Regions from separate parts of the Homo sapiens genome. Here region 2 is linked to region 1. A link means that fine-mapping ties the variant in region 1 to the expression of a gene that starts in the linked region. Tissue or cell type: pancreas. Region 1 holds a variant in brackets; the other region holds the start of a gene. All regions are shown on one strand. Distances are between the middles of the regions.

The links. PIP is the estimated chance that this variant, and not a neighbour inherited with it, causes the effect.
Region 2: IGFN1 starts here. The variant in region 1 is fine-mapped to the expression of IGFN1 in pancreas (GTEx, PIP above 0.99).

Annotation. Positions count from the first base shown.
Region 1 is chr1:201,125,338-201,128,092 of GRCh38, reverse strand. It overlaps ASCL5 (achaete-scute family bHLH transcription factor 5), which reads left to right and starts at 909. Exons shown (of 2, transcript NM_001270601.2): 1 at 909-1,009. RefSeq lists enhancers at 1-724, 725-1,715. The variant AGGGCT/T (reference allele first, on the strand shown) is at 1,115.
Region 2 is chr1:201,189,325-201,191,949 of GRCh38, reverse strand. It overlaps IGFN1 (immunoglobulin like and fibronectin type III domain containing 1), which reads right to left and starts at 1,126. Exons shown (of 24, transcript NM_001164586.2): 1 at 1,043-1,126.

The DNA.
Region 1 (2,755 bases):
AGAACGCAGGTCTCCCAGCTCCCAGCACAGGCCTCCCAGCTCCCAGCACAGGCCTCCTCCCTAGAGCCGCAGGCCTCACCACACAGAGCTGGGCCTTCGCCTTGCCGGAGGCTCATCTAGTGGGCCGCGTATCCCTGGGCACACCTCTTTCCTCTCTGGGTGCCACTTTCCTCAGCTGGCCACTGGGGAGGATGGCCTTGGTGACCTCCACGGGCCCCTCCAGCTCTGGCTTCAGGCAGCTTTGTGCATGTGCGGTGCAGCTACCCTGCAGTCCCTGGTGGAGGCTGGCGGTGCGAGTGCCCCCCAGCCCTGCACTGTGTCCCTGGAGAGCCACTGCAGCCCTCCTAGTCCCCGGTTCAACCCCTGGAGTGCCCAGTGATCACCTGACAGTCCCCACCCCCAAACTGGTATCATGAAAGCCACTCCAGAGAGAGTGTTGTCTTCTCCTGACCATAAGGACTTCCCCCATAAAAAGAGACTCCCTGCGTGTTCCTGGTCTCTTGCCCTTCACGCTCACGACGCATTTCCTACGCGCTAATTCAAGTCCCTCCTGCTGTATGGACTTCCATCCAGAGGCTATCTGAGGCTCCCTGCCAGCTGGGCCAGATGCATCCCCCTCCCTTGGCTCTCAGCAGGGCAGCGCCCTAGAGGACAGCATCCCCACTCCTCCTAGGCTCCAGCCCAGAGCTGCATGTCACTTGCCCAGACTCAGGGCAGCCAATCACAGGAGGCCAGGAGTGGCCCTCTCTCCTTCTTGGGAGCTGATCCCAGATCAGAGGAGCCCCCACCCCCTGCCGCCCCTCCTCCCTCCCCTTCTGGGTGTGTTGCCGTTTGAAGTTGAATCAGGTAAAGTGTACCTGGCTCCCGGTGCTGTGGCAGGAAAGCCCGGCCAGAGGCTGCTGAAGGTGCTGCTGGGCAGGCGGGCAGCCCCGGAGATTCCGCAGTCCCCCCAGGAGGTTCAAGAGCCACTGATCAGGATAAGCGCTGCCGGAGGAACAAACCCAGAGAGGTAACCGTGCGAAGGTGGTGGCTGAGGGATGTGCCCGAGTTTGATCCTGAAATAGTGATAGCCCCACCCGGCCTGGAGGAGGGAGGCCAGGAACACTGTTTACTC[AGGGCT/T]TAGTCACCCCTGATGGCTTTCCTACCCAAAGGAAAGGAAAACAGAGCCAAGCCACCTGCTGGCTGGGGTTACGGCACCCACCAGTGCTGGGAGAAGGCGAGATCAGCTGTGCTGCCAAGGACATTGCCACTGAGCGGGCATTTTCCCATGGACTTGCTCGTCGTGAAGGGTCTAGGCAGGAGGAGAGCTAGGCCTGGGTCTGAACTTGGGAGCAGGCTCAGGAGGTGCAGAGCAGTGGTGAAGGGCCTGGCCACAGGAGAGATGGCCCGGGCTCACACCCTAGCTCCATTACTTAATTGTTGTGGGACCACAGGCCATTTGCATATCTAGGTCTCTGTCCCTTCACCTGTTAAGTGGGTTAATAATAGTATATGGCTCACAGCACTATGTGAGAATCAAATGGGTAAAGTGCTTAGACTAGTACTTGGCATAGAATAAATGTTATATAAATATTTTTGTTGTTTTTAATCATGCTATTTACTAAAAATATGATCCCCCTTAAACTCACTTAAGCTTGCTGAGCCTCAGTTTCCCCATCTGTAAAATGGGAATAGAAAGTGATTTAAGGGAGGGCGGGACACAGTGGCTCATGCCTGTAATCTCAGCCACTCAGCAGGCTGAGGCGGGAGGATCACTTGAAGCCAGAAGTTCAAGATTCTGTCTCTACAAAAAAATTTTTAACAACCCAGCATGGTGGTGTGTAGCTATAATCAGGAGGCTGAGGCAGGAGGATTACTTGGACCCAGGAGTTCAAGTTTACAGTGAGCTATGATCGTCCCACTGCTCTCCAGCCCACATGACAAGGTGAGATCCTGTTACTTAAAAAAAAAAAAATTAACTTTAAAAGAGCTAAGGGAACTTGAAGAGATTAAATAAATAAATTGCTAGCACATGGTAAGGTGCCTAGTAAATAACAGTCTCCTTCCCTACGGTGTGAGCCAAGATTCTGTCCCCGTTAGAACACAGCATTTCCTCCCACTCAGTGCCTGTGCTTTTTATCCTGCTCCCCGAGGAGGCAGTTTGGATGGATGAGTTTTGTATTTTCAGGCTCAGACCTCTGCATCGCTGCTCTACCACAGACATTAAAGGAAGGTGACACGGCTCGTGAGACCACCTGCTTTGCTATAACAGTCATGGACTGGTGACACTCACCTGTGCCCATTCAATTGCCATTCATCCAGCAGCAATTCAATTACCCCTCCACATCAGGCTACTTCTTGGACACCTCCTATGTGTCAGGGGCAGGGCTGGGCCCGCAGGATACAGAGGGAGCATGAGGTTCCTGCCCTTCAAGGAACTCCTGCTCCTTGAAAGAGCAAGACACAAATGCACAGCAAGGTGAACAGCAAGGCGAGGGCACGCCAATGAACTATGACCACTGAGAGCAACGCACCAAGGCTTTAGGATTCAGGGAGAAGGAGAAAGAGCAGAAACAGGAGAGGGTAGTAAAGCTCTGTGGACAAAGAAAGACCCAAACAGCTTCCAGAAGTAGGAGTTGGATGAGTGGAAAGGCAAGGGGCTAATTCTCCCGGAAAGGAGCAACTCTGTGAACATGGGCTAGAGGGGAGAACGCAGAGGCTGCTTGAGAGAAGAGAGTTATGTTCACGCTGAAGCTGAGGGCTGATTTGGGGATAT
Region 2 (2,625 bases), 64 kb before region 1:
TGGTGCCAGTCGGTGACCCCCACACTGGAGTAGTTTGAGTTCAACACAGCTATCTGAGTCATCATCCCCATCGTCACCCACATCATCACCACGAGCAGCTATCATCCTGTTACTCAGCTATTGGTCACACATGAAGAAGGATGACGCTGATACCACTCTTCTCCCTCCAGCCTCCTGCCTACAGCTCCCAGCAGAGGAGGGCAAAAGAAGCAAAGCTCTTGGGGGAACTTAGGGATGTGACGTTAAGCATCCACTTCTGGAGCTCCACTCTCTTTTAGAATAAGCCAGATTTGGTACAAAGTCAATGACACAGGGAAAGAGATCTGTTGGATTGGAGACTAGAGGGATGTAGTCTCAGTTGGAAGGGATGAGAAAGGAAATGAATTCTCTCCTCCATAATTCATTCCCACATTTGAGAAGAACTCCAGTTCTTCCCAGAAGGAAACAGCAGTTTGTGTCCTCACTTCAGCTGTCCCAACAACACTCTCAGCACTGGATCCTGGGACAGTCCCTCCCTGCCCCCTCTCCAGGACCTATGGCTCCCCATCCTTTTTCCCTACCCTCCCCGGATCCATCCTGCACATCCAGGTCCCTGCTACCTCCAGTTGGTCCCTGCTACCTCTCAACTGGTAGAAATTGAGGCAGGAAGAGCCAAATGGAGTTCTCTCAACTGCTTTGACCATGATACTAACCAAAATATAACAAGTCCCAGCCCGAGGTCCTTATTCTGGACTGCTAGTGATATTTTTAATCTGGTCATCGTATCACACCCAAAGTCAAGCCGTGTCCAGAAAATTAGAGCCAGGACAGAAATGCCCAGACAGGACACACTGAAATTCTCTCCTCCAGATATCCTGGAGTAACCTAGAGGGGATACAGGTGCACCCCAGCGTGTGATCCGCCAGCCAGGGAATGTTCCCCAGGCAGACATCCTGCCCACTGCCTGCCCCTTCCTGCGTAGAAAAGCTGGACAGCAGGCTAGTGTCTCCATCCTGGCCCTACCCTGGCCCGGGTGGGCAGCCAGGTGTGAGCACCCACTTACCTGGGTGTACAGCTGACCTCCCGCTTCCTGTCTGCTCCCTCTTCCCCGTTTCCAGCTGCTGCTTGCTGAGGCTCTGGATTGACTGGTAGTGGACAGGCAGGGCTGGAGCAGGTGTCGGTTGCTGCAGGCGCCTCTGCTCCCTCTGCCCCTCCCACTCACCCCGCCTCCTCCTTCTCCTCCAGTCCAGGCTTGGCAGGGCAAGGCCCCCAGGGCTAACATTCTAGCTCAGAGGAGGTCAGAGATGGAAGGGTCCTGTGACATCAGTCCATCCAACTCCTCGCTTTGCAGAGCTTTAAGCTCTTAACCAGACTGGCTTAGTGTAAATTTGCCCCATGAAGCCTCATTTATACGACCCTTTTTAGCAAGGACATTTTCATCATCCAAACCCTTAACTTTTCAGCTAAGCTGGTCCCTTGGGACCTTTGACACCATAAGTCACACAGATACATAAGCCACTGCCCTCTTGGGAATCACACCTCCAAGTGGTATCAAACAGGCAGCAAACTTTGGGAGTGGGAGGGAAGGCAGCCATTAACGGAGTCACAGACACAGAGTCCACCGAGAGTGACCAGGAAGGAGGAGACCCTGGGAACTGTGTAGTCAGCAGGCCTGCTGGAGAAGGTGAGCTTGCTCAGGAGCTTTTCAAGGAACAGAAGGGGTGACCTGACCAGCAGGGTTGGGGGCGAAGTCGGCAGGGCAGATGGTTGGGTTTTTGGTCGGACAGATGGATGGCAAGTGGAAATTGGAAATACAATGGCTGGTAACAGATTTTCTTAAGGAGAGTGGAGGGCAGGTGAGGCCCAGGAGATAAGGCCACCTGGTGTGCTTTGAAAGAGCCACCTTCTCTCTCCTTAAGGACAGAGAACTGCTTTGTTGCCACCCATAAGCGAGGCTTGATTGAGGATTCAGGTGAAGTAGAAGGGAAATGGGGTGAATGTTTGCATCCAGGGGAGGACACTGAATATTTACATGTGTTGATTAGCATCTTGCCAATTTCTACAGGCGCTACCTCTGGATGTGCTCCGAGAGGGGAGGTGTTTGACCTCTTCTGCGCAAGTACGTGTATGTGTGTGCATGCATGCACACACACATACATTTGTGTGTCCTCCCTGTGTGTTTCTGAGTGTCAGGGCTGGTCTTTCATTTGTTCAACAAACATGTGTTGAACACCTACCGTGGGTTGAGCCCTGGCTCTGGCACTGTGTTAAGCCCTAGGAATACAAAGGTAAGCAAGTGACAGGGCCCTCCCATCATGAAGTTCACAGTCTAATGGGGCAGGTAGATGTAGGGGCTCCAAAGGAGACAATGGAGAGTGTGAGGGGAGGGCTGGACCTTGGAGAGCAAGGGAAAGAGTGGCAGTGAGAGTTGAGTTTGGACAGGTAGGCTTTGGGGGCCATTGAAGAGTTTTGATCTCTATTGTAAAGGTTACTGAGGTTTGTTTAAGCTGGAGGGGTGACAGGATCCAATCTGCATTTTAGAAGAACTCATTCTGGCTGCAGAAATGGAAGGGATTGGAGGAAGGAGAAAGTGAGAGGCAGGAGTCTACCTCCCAGGAGTGCAGTCCCAGGAGAACACCCTAGGGT